3 linked regions of the Homo sapiens genome follow. The protein of the gene in region 1 binds, or shares a complex with, the protein of each later gene. Each region holds a gene or a part of one and is shown on either strand. Other genes may lie near its edges.

The links.
Region 2: PPP2R1A (region 1) and STK24 share a complex: the UniProt entries of both Homo sapiens proteins name them as parts of the core of STRIPAK complex.
Region 3: PPP2R1A (region 1) and STRN4 share a complex: the UniProt entries of both Homo sapiens proteins name them as parts of the core of STRIPAK complex.

Annotation. Positions count from the first base shown.
Region 1 is NC_000019.10:52,207,049-52,210,696, reverse strand, and holds part of PPP2R1A (serine/threonine-protein phosphatase 2A 65 kDa regulatory subunit A alpha isoform), read right to left. Parts: intron 1-3,648. UniProt on the Homo sapiens protein: The PR65 subunit of protein phosphatase 2A serves as a scaffolding molecule to coordinate the assembly of the catalytic subunit and a variable regulatory B subunit.
Region 2 is NC_000013.11:98,570,546-98,574,193, reverse strand, and holds part of STK24 (serine/threonine-protein kinase 24 isoform b precursor), read left to right. Parts: intron 1-3,648. UniProt on the Homo sapiens protein: Serine/threonine-protein kinase that acts on both serine and threonine residues and promotes apoptosis in response to stress stimuli and caspase activation.
Region 3 is NC_000019.10:46,722,388-46,726,035, forward strand, and holds part of STRN4 (striatin-4), read right to left. Parts: intron 3,262-3,648; coding exon 3,086-3,261; intron 2,993-3,085; coding exon 2,945-2,992; intron 2,542-2,944; coding exon 2,420-2,541; intron 898-2,419; coding exon 727-897; intron 564-726; coding exon 423-563; intron 1-422. UniProt on the Homo sapiens protein: Calmodulin-binding scaffolding protein which is the center of the striatin-interacting phosphatase and kinase (STRIPAK) complexes.

The sequences.
Region 1 (3,648 bases):
TATGGTGAAACCCCGTTTCTACTAAAAATACAAAAAAATTAGCTGGGTGTGGTGGTGCGCACCTGTAATCCCAGCTACTCGGGAGGCTGAGGCAGAAGAATCCTTGAACCCGGGAGGCAGAGGCTGCAGTAAGCCGAGATCGCACCACTGCACTCCAGCCTGGGCAACACAGCGAGACTCCGTCTCAAAAAGAAAAAAAAAAAAAAAAAAAAGAAGAGAAAACTGAGGTACAGCCTGGCTTGCCCAAGCTAGTAATAGCTACAGGTCAGGATCGAAAACCTGACCTAAGCTTCCCATGAACAGTTACACACAGCTCTGGTGACTGAATTGGGATCTCATGTTTCTGGGGGACTATGGGGCTCGGGACTGCTCGCTGGTTGTTACTGTGGGCCTAGAATGACTGTGCTCCTTCAGATACATACGACTGGCTCTCCACTGTATCCCCAGAGCCCAGCAGCACTCTTAGCACAAGACAGGAACTCTTAATTAGTGACCTACTGAAGGGAGACTCAACTTATCCCAATATGTTCAAATAAAGGTGTGGAGGTCTCTGATCTGAAATTCAACTTGGGCTGACAGGTATTTAAAGCAGGAAAAAAAAAATCATAAATGGAAATGCCTCCAGGGCTCAGTCAAGTAACAGAATGATGCCATCAGCCAAGGTGACAGGCAGGGGTGGCAGGAGGCATGAATAGGAAGAGGCAGGCACTGTGGCACCCTGGAGGGCATGTAGCCCAGGGAGGGCAGGTGCTCCCCAGCTCCAAGGACTGTCACTATGGGAGAATGCAGCTGGCAATAAGCAAATCTGGTTTTCCAAATGCAGCCCTCAAAAAAACTCAAGAATCTTGTATGTGAGAAGTCTCATGTAACACATGCTACAACATGGATGAACCTTGAAGATGTTATGCCAAGGGAAATTAGCTAATAGTCATAAAGACAAATATTTTCTGATTCCACTTATATGAGGAATCTAGAACAGTCAAACTCCTACGGTGGCTGCCAGGGGCTGGGGGAGAGGGAAGGGGGAGCTCATGTCCAATGGGTTTGGAATTTCAGTTTGAGGAGGTGAAAAATTCTGGAGATGGAGGGTGATAATGGCTGCACAATGTGAATAAACCTACCGCCACAGAGCTACACACTTTAAAATAATTAAAATAGCACATTCTATGTATATTTTTACAGTAAAACTAAGAATAAAAACAAATGTTTAAAAATAGCATTTAAAAATAGTTGCAATGAATGATTCAAAGGAAAAATGTAATACTAAGCAAGCCAGCATAATGTCACTGTCACAGGTCCTCATGCTATCGTGACGTCTCAAGTTCAGGACAGTATCATGGGAGTGTGACCATAGGTGCGGTGTGACTGGGATACTGCAGGGACAGAGTTCCTCTTGTTCACCTCAGTTCTCCCACCACCTGGGCTGGCACAGAGAAGGTACTCAATCAACACTTGCCAAGTGACTACCGGTGGAACTTACGGCAATCTGTTATAAGGAGGCCTGGGACAGAGGCTGAGCAGTAATTATGTAAGCCAAGGTTCTCTTCTCCTGTAGGTTACTGCAGGAAGTAGTTCTCAAAGGATGATCCCTGACCACCCTGCAGCAGAATCACCCGGAGGCCTATCCCAGCATGGACCAAAACAATCAGAATATCTGGAGGCAGGGCCCAGGAAGGTACACATTTAAGAAACTGCAATTGATGCCTTTGCACAGTGAAGACTCACTACTGTGAAGCCTCTCTGTGAAGTCTGGGGGCAAGGGTTCTCAAACCTGGAGACCACACAGGGTAGGGAAGAGTGTGAACCGCCTAAAATCCTGTGTACTTTTATAAGAAGAGGGTCCAGAATTTAACAGATTCTCAAAGGGATCCATAATTCCAAAAGAGTTAGGAACTGCTGGCCGGATGCGGTGGCTCACGCCTGTAATCCCAGAACTTTGGGAGGCCAAGGCAGGTGATCATTTGAGGCCAGGAGTTCTAGACCAGCCTGGCCAACATGGTGAAACCCTGTCTCTACAAAAAATACAAAAATTAGCCAGGCATGGTGATGGGTGCCTGTAATCCCAGCTACTTGGGAGGCTGAGGCTTGAGAATCACTTGAACCCGGGAGGCAGAGGCTGCAGTGAGCTGAGATTACAACACTGCACTCCAGCCTGGGTGACAGAGCGAGACTCTGTCTCAAAGAAAAATAAAAATAAAAAGAGCTGCTGACACAGAAACAACCCTCACACCCAGGCACGGTGGCTCACACCTGTAATCCTAGCACTTTGGGAGGCCGGGGTGGGTGGATCACCTGAGGTCAGGATTCCGAGACTAATCTGACCAACAAAGTGAAACCCCGTCTCTACTAAAAATGCAAAAATTAGCTGGGTGCGGTGGCACACGCCTGTAATCTCAGCTACTCGTGAGGCTGAGGCAGGAGAATCACCTGAACCTGGGAGGCAGAGGTTGCAGTGAGCCGAGATCCCGCCACTGCACTCCAGCCTGTGCAGCAAGAGTGAAACTCCATCTCGGGAAAAAAACAAAACAAACAAAAAAACAATCCTTACACTGCAGCTACAGGAGTCTCTGTAATTAATTCCATTTCACCACTGCTGAGAGCAAGGGCCGGGAGTGGGTCTGACACATCTCTGGGTTTCCATAGCCTAGAGACCTTGCTCAATGTTTGTGGAATGAAGAAACTACACAAAGCCATTTTCTATTTCTTATAACCTGTCAAAATCCAGGTTAACAGCCACCTCCTCCAGGAAGCCTTCCCTGACAACTTCCCATCCCACCTAAGCAGGTTAGGCGCCTTCCCTGGGTTTAAGGACCCCCCTGCCTCCCTTGTTTACAGCTCTGAAAGCAACCAGGAGCCCTCTGAGGATAGCACATAGGAGTGGCTAAGAATTAGGGGCCTGGGATCGAATCTGGACTCTGCCTCTTCCCAGCTCGGACAATTCACTTAAATCTGCCTGTGCCTCAGTTTCCTCATCTGGGCAATACAGCTAACATCAGTATACAACTGTGTAAGGCTCTTGGGATGTGCACTGCAGGCAACGAGCAAGCACAAGCTATTCTGATCTAACTCTTCTCTGGTTTCCAGCACTGCCTGGCCCAGACAGCCCCAGGATGTGTCTGCTGGCTGACATGAACGTCAGGCACATCGGTCACAGGGAACTGCTTCCCAAAAGGAAGCGTGGCTTGACTGGGACTTTCCTCACTGAGAATGTTCTGTTGGGAGACCCTGGCCAGGTAGGAGAAGGATCCCTGGGTCCCAGCCCAGCTCCACAGCAAGCCTGAGTCCCAACCTCAGTTGCAGACCCTGGGGGCCCTTGTTGAAGCCTTGCGGTTTCATAAAAATAATGTCTTCTGCTCCTAAGTCCTCTGAGAAGCTACTGAAAGCTATGAATTCACTGCTCAGAAGTTCCACCTGACAAATACCAGGCAGGGGCTACAGATAATTTTGTGAAATTCAAGGAACCCCTTCTAGGCTGGCCCCCAAACCTCATCATGCTCATGTTAAGCCCTGTTTTGTGTAAAATGTATGAAACGATCTATTTGTATACAATTTTCTGTGTGTCCATACGCACAAATTATACACATATGCCCAGATGAAGGCTGAGATATCCGAATTTAATGGTAACTATCAAGTTTCTTTACATAATGC
Region 2 (3,648 bases), on another chromosome or scaffold:
TAAAAATCCAAAAAATTAGCTGGGCGTGGTGGCACACGCCTGTAATCCCAGCTACTCGGGAGGCTGAGGCAGGAGAATCACTTGAACCCGGGAGGCGGAGGTTGCGTTGAGCTGAGATTGTGCCGTTGCACCCCAGCCTGGGCGACAGAGGCAGACTCCGTCTCAAAAAAAAAAATAAAATAAAAAAATAAAGCAGAGTGAATTCAGGTGGCCTAGGCAAGGATGCTTGAAAAATAACAACCATGTTAGTATAAACACCATTTTTCAATGTTTTGCAAATCATTTTTATGCCTCTTGATTCTTACCGGTACCGTTTGAGATGTAGATGATATTATACCATTTTGTAGATGTGGAGACCAAGGAAGACTTAACTGACCAAGGTGAGATCATATATTATGTGGCAAATTTGTGATTGGAAACTACTACTCCTCCTACTCCCACTCATCATGCAGTGTTACTGTTTTATGGTTACTTTTGCAAACATTAAAGTTTATCTCATTGCTAGTTAGATTGGCTAAAGAAATTAGAAATAGGAGGCTGATTTTTTAATTTATTCAATCAGCAACCCTTATTGAACTTTCATGTGCCAGGTCCTAGGGGAGGGGTTGAAAGTGGTAGATCTGAATGAGGTTACCATTTAAAGTAAATGTTTAATGAAAGTTGCTGAAGCCTTTGCTTTTTTTCTCTTAAACCCCAGTTTTATATTTCAGTAGGGGAAAAAAATAGACATCAGAAACTGAATGAATATAGTGACGAATAAACATAAAGAAATCAGGCTGATCTGTGGCTATAAGTACTCCGTCTTTCATTGAGCATTTGTTGTTTCACTCAATTGAGATTAAAAGAAAAGCTTCAGATGGAGGCAGGAACACCAATCGGCTTTGAGTTTGCAGAAATGTGATTTAAAAATGAGATTTTGGTTTGCACATTTCTGTTACAAAATTTTATCAGTCACTTTTCAACTTTTCTGAACCGTGACCCATGTAAGAAATATATTTTACATCAGGATCAAAAACAAGTTTCAGGAGACCGTACTAATCCTTACTACGGGTTGAGTATCCCTCATCCAAAATGCTTGGGACCACAAGTGTTTCGAATTTTGGAATATTTGCATTATATGCTTGTTGAACATCCGAAATCAGAAGTGCTCCCAATGAGCATTTCCTTTGAGTGTCATGTTGGCGCTGAAAAGTTTCATATTTTGGAGCATTTTGGATCAGGGATGCTCAGCCTGTGCTTGTGATGTGCTGTTGTGGTATATTTAAAAAAGGAGCTGGTTGCAACACTAGATTGATTTCACAGCCCACTGATTCCTGACCCACAGTTTGAAAAATACTGAATTATATACGTCACATGTATTGCATATTGCAGGGCCTGGTTAATTTACCATGTTTTGAAGTTGTAAGTTTAACATAGTTTCATATTTGAAAATACAGATAATTTAGAGGAATAGCTTAAAAACCTGAAGTTTGTCTTGTTAACATCATCCTGTCCCCCTCGTTCCCCTTCTGTTTTTCTTGCTGCTTGGATAAATAGACCTTTGCTGAGAATGCCCCTTGCATCAGGATAGTGAGACTGGTGTCTAATGGCCAGTCTGGGAACATGGGGAGCTTTTCTCAAGTGCTCTGCTCCACCCTAGGGAAGCCTGTGCACTCTGGGAGTCTGGGAAATGAAGGCAAACACAGGACAGCTGCATTTAATTGTGGCTTAAGTGCTCTTGTACTTTTTTTTCTTGTTAGTGTCACATTTCCACGGGTTCTTTTCCGTTCCTTCCTTGGGAGGTGCCTGCCCAGTTACCCTGTTACCATCTGCACCCTGGGGGAAGGTTGGTGTGTCACTGGGTGTGGACAGTCAGGACATCCGAGACGTGGGTTCGGAGAGCACCTTGGGGACTTGCTGAACTGTGGAGTGTGCTCTGGTGACTGACAGCATTGGACTGCACAGGGGAGCCTGCAGAGTATAGTGCCCGGAGTCGTTGGAGGCAGAGTTCAGAGCCTCAGTCCATCCTGTCCTCAAGAGGTCGGCTGCCTGCTTTGGGGCATGTGCTCTAAGAAGGTTGCAGTGACTGAGGACACAGTGAGCAAAGGCACATGGTTGGAAAGCGGTGACACAGCTTCTGGTGGGCTAGATCTAGATCGGTCCTGGAGCTGAAGAGGCAGTGGGGTGCCTGTGGGCCTGGGGGAGGCCTTGCATCTGTAGACAGCCGGAAGTATGGCACATTTTTGAGCAGATGATCTCCTGTTCTTTGGGGCTCCTGCTTTCTCAGGTGTGGGGAGTGCTGGGTGCCCCTTTAGAAGGCATTGCAGCACTTCAGGGAAGAGGAAGCCCAGGGATGCGAGTGGGGAGCCCAGGTGTCAGTAGGACAGCCTAAGTGGATTTTTTTAGCATTCACTCAGCTTCGTGGCTTGAACTCTCAGTGAACATTTTATAGTATCTCATTACTCCTCTTGCTTTATGATCCTTTTTGCTGATCAGTGCTAAAGAGTAATAAGTACTCAGTTACTGTTAGTTACTGTTTTGTTAGTTAGTTGCCTATGTAAGTGTCAAAAAAACAAAAAACCTATTTTGAATACTCCGTGTTCCAAAATGTAACAATGGTAAGAATTTGTTTTGCTTGAAAGTGTTCTTTTTTGAGGGGGAGGATGGTCACAAGGTTTTTTTAAATTAGAAAAACCCAAACTTTTGGAGGAGTCCAGTCTCAGATCTGGGAGTATTCTTGATAGCATGTCACATAAAAGCAAGTGACCTTCAAGTAGGAATTGGTCAGATGAGATTTTCTAGCTTGCTAACTGTGCTGAGCAGTTATGGGCAGGTGGCGGCTGGCATCATTGCTTTCCCACCCTCTTTCTGACTTTGATGCTCTTCTTGGAGCTACGGTCTGATGCGTAGAGCTGAGCTGCCTAATGTGGTGCAGGTTGAGTTTCATTTTCAGTTCAGTATTTTTCCAGGACCCTGGTGCAAGATGCAGGGTGAGCAGTTACTGAAGGGAGGAGCCTGTCGATGGTCACTGCTACTTTCTGCTGTGCTTGTGCGGTTACACACACTCTAAAGCCGCAGTCCAGGCGTCCGATGGTCTCCTGAGAAACGGGCCCCTTAGCTCTTTATTTGGGCGATTACTCCCGATGATTCAGAGCTGCCCTTGTGGAAGCTCCTTACCTGCAGGAAGTGGACCACACCCAAGCCACCTTTCTGTGCCTTTTAATGCCTTAGCTCAGCTGATTATCATTAATGGAATCTTGTGGGTGGTGTGAGTGCAGGAAATAGAAGTTGCACTCTATTATCCATGTCTCATCGCGTAGAATCAGCCACTGTCGTCGGAGTAGTTTGTAGCAGTCATTTCCCATAATTCATGTTTTTGCAGTGGAAATTATAAAAAATATAAGTGCCAAATGCTTTGGGAAAAATAACCTGCCTCCTGAGGGTGACTATGGAGTTTCTTAATCCTAAATGGCTCCCTGGTTTGCAAGGTTTAAATTAGGGGAAATAAACTGAGATATGCCTTTGCTTGGTACAAACTGTGAAACATCCCAAATTGGTGGTTACCAGTCACTTTATGCGCACCCAGGGAACAACATTGTTGACTCTAGAGACCTTCCATTGTGTTTCTTGAGGGTTCTTCGTCAGCAAAAGAAACCTTTTCTGTTCTGC
Region 3 (3,648 bases), 5.5 Mb from region 1:
GAAGACCAGAACAGAGGCACAAGCGCAGCGTGACAGCCCCTACACCAGCCTCTGCCTGGATGTCGAGGGGGGCTGGGCGAGGGCACTCCGGTCCCCGACCGCAGCGCTGGTTCTGCACAAGCAGCCCCTGGGCCCTGTTTTGGGGCGGGGGAAGAGGAATAACAAACATGAACACATTCCGCCACTCTACCAAGAGGGCCCGACGGGGCGGCCCTGACGCGCTCTCCCCACTCAGCCCCGCCAGTGCCCTGGCTGTGAGGGCCGGGGGCCCTCCACTGGGACCCAACTTCCTTCCTGCTCAGGGCCTGAGGGTGCAGGGGAGTCATCTGAGCTGACTGACAAGGGGTCGCCAAAGCCCCAGGAGGAAGTGGGGCCCAGAAGACACTGAGACCAATTCCATGAGCTGATGTCAGCCCCCTTACCGCTGCTGCCCCGGGACTCCAGCGTGAGGAGGGCACTGCCAACCTCCATGTCATACAAGACGGTGTCGCCAGAGCGGAAGGAGGCCACGATGTGGGCAGGCTCGGTGCTGGTGAAGGCCACTGAGGTGGGGACCCCGTGCTCTGAGGGCACAGGGAAGAGAAGGCTGCTGAATGGACCCTCAGACCCAGCCCTGCCCCAGGGTGGGGGACAGTGGGTGGGAGGCCTGGGGCCTCAGCAGGAACCACTCTGATAGCCTCCAGATCCCGCACAGCTCCAGGGTGAGGCACCGGGGCCCCCACTCACCGCTGGCTGTGGGGAAGGTGCAGAGGCAGGCCGGGCTGCTGCTGCTGGGGTCCCAGATGCGGACGGTGCCATCAGCAGAACAGGAGGCCAGGCGCTGGGAGGTGGGACTGAAGGCCAGGCCCCACACGGCGTCCCCGTGGCCCTCCAGGACGTGGCTCAGCACGCTTGGGTCTGCACCCACCGCAGGGAGGAAATGGGCTGTGTCAGGGCTGCCAGCTCCTCCCTGGACAGCCCAGAGCCCCAGCTCTGCCAAGCCCCAGGCAGCTGGGCTCCAATCACCCACGCACCCACTTCACACCTGGTGCCCCTCGGAACTGTCCACTGCCAGGACAGCCCGGCAGCTGCTCACACTGCCCACTAGCTCTCCAAGGAAGGTTCTAGGGCTCCAGAAGGCAGGGATTTCCCTCTATTCACAGCTGTCTCCCCAAGCAGGGCCCAGAAACTGGGAGCTCAATACAGAATTTTTCGGGCTCCATTAAGGAAGAAGGAACAGCATGGTTCTGTGGCCCCAGGAGCGGCACGCAGCCTGTGCTGGACAAGGGTTGGTCCCAACCCTGGCCCGAGCAGTCTTTTCAGCCCATGGCCAAGTGCATGGGCTTTGCCTGGTCTCTCCAAAGCCCCCTGGTCATTCAGAGGTCCAATCACTGCTTCCCTGGTTGCTGGAGTCCACACCAGCAGCTCTGGCCTGCTGACACCGAAAGTGTGGTGGCTAATGTAGCTGGGACCGATCCTGACCTTGTGCAGGTGAGCCTGTTCTCTAAAGTCTGTCCTCCCCTTGAGAGGAGACAAAGACCTCTGAACTCTGCCCAGACAAGGTGGAGCACAGGGCCAGGTGCATGATCAAGGAGGCAGAGCCGGGCGCAGTGGCTCATGCCTGCAATCCCAGCACTTTGGGAGGCCAAGGTGGGTGGATCACCTGAGGTCCGGAGTTCAAGACCAGCCTGGTCAACGTGGTGCAACCCTGTCTCTACCAAAAATACAAAAAATAGCTGGATATGGTGGTGCGTGCCTGTAATCCCAGCTACTCGGGAGGCTGAGGCACGAGAATCACTTGAACCCAGGAGGTAGAGGTTGCAGTAAGCCAAGATCACGCCACTGCATTCCAGCCTGGGTGACAGAGTGAGACTCTTTGTCTCAAAAAAAAAAAAAAAAAAAAAAAAAAGGCAGAGAACAGGGGGACAGATGTTGAACAGAAGTGACAGTCTGGTCACTTCCCTACTTAGGTCTTAGATGCTCCAAAGAGAAAGCCCCAACGCGCTCCAGCCTGGCCCAGCTAACTCCACCTTCTCTGCTTTCTCTGGACATGCCCTCCCCTCAACCACGCAGAGACCCTGGCGGATCCCCACACACAGAGTACACGGCATGGCAGAGCAGAGGCTGCCAGGGCCAGCCACGCCTGTGCATGGGCTGCTCCCAGCCTGGGCTGCCTCAGCACTGCCTTCTGGACGCCGGCTCACAGAGATTCTCAGGCAGCTTCACCACCTCCTCCCACAGCCATCATTCCCATCCCGGCTGGCTCGTCCCTTGGCCACGCGCTGCATCGCGCTGCTCACAACAGAGCAGACAGGGGAGCCGTCACACGCACTCCTGAGGCCTGCAGTGTTGGCAAGAGGTGGACGCGACGTGTGTGTGCGTGGAGGGGACGGCCAGGCCCCAGTGGATGTGAGGGGAAGGCGGGAGGCGTTGTCCTCACCGTAGCCATCATAGGGATCCATGCTGAGGTCTGGAATCTTCCAACTATGGATGCAGGCATCTGCCCCGCCACTGTAGCAGTATTCACTGTTGCTGCCCATAGCCACAGCCAACACTGGGCCCCTGGAAGGGACAAATATGTGGAAAGGGGGATGAGACAAGCTCAGGGCCTCCCCTGGCCACAGGACCTAAGTTCCCTACTAGCATTCTTCAAGGATGGCCAAAAGGAATTCAGTGACTGGGGCTCTGGCCATGCTACCTGGACAAGCTGCCTGTCCCCTGCCCTCCCCCACCCCACCTCCATCTCCTCCCCTGAAGGGCTGTGCTGAGTACCAGCTGCCAGGGCATGTGAAAGTCAGCATGGAGCCCCAAGAACCAGGGCTGTGTATATCATGAAGGGGGCGGGGACTCAGAGCCCCCTGCTGTCCTGCCTCCTGCCGTGGGCCTCCCGCGATGGCAGTGAGCAGGTCAGGAGTCAGGCTGCATTTAGGACGAGTTTCTAGCAGGCTCAGGGGCACCTCCCTACCTGTGAGCCCGGAAAGCATGTATAGGTTCCACATCTAGCGCCGCATTCCTGTGGGATGACAGAGGAGCCTGATGTCACTGAGACCCTGTCACCCCCGTCCCCAGATGCCCCTGCCCCCGGCTCTGAGCTTGCTGCCCTCACTTCTTGGCCGTGACCGCCTTCTGCAGGTTCCAGAGCTTGAGCGTGCCGTCCTCGGAGGCGGTGAGCAGAGCCGACTGGCTGTGGTGGAAGGCCAGGGAACGAATGCCGTCGTAGTGCGAGCGCAGGGTGAACTTGGGGTTCCACGTCTTCTTAAAAGCATCTTTGCTGTCAGACAGCTGGGGTTGGGGGGAGCTGCCTCAGTGTCTTCGCATCCATCCCAGCAGTCATGCAGACACCGACACCCAGGGCTTGAGGGCCCCTGTCTTCCACCCACATGACCCTGGCAGGAATGCCCTCAGAGCCTGGGCTCCAGCCGGGAACTCTCCCCTTCCTCTGCTGGGCAGAGTCTCCATGCTCGCCCAACAAGTCCCCACACTGCGCTGGGTTCTGGAGAGACAAAGGTGAGCCTGACCCCTTGGGGTCTTGCAGTTGAGAGGAAGGGGAATGGGGGACACAACTGGACCATCCCACAAGTGTGCAGGATCATCAGCCATGAGCAGGGCAATGAATTAAAGATGCACAGAGAGACATCAGGCAGCCTGCCCTCCTCCCTGGGGGCCACT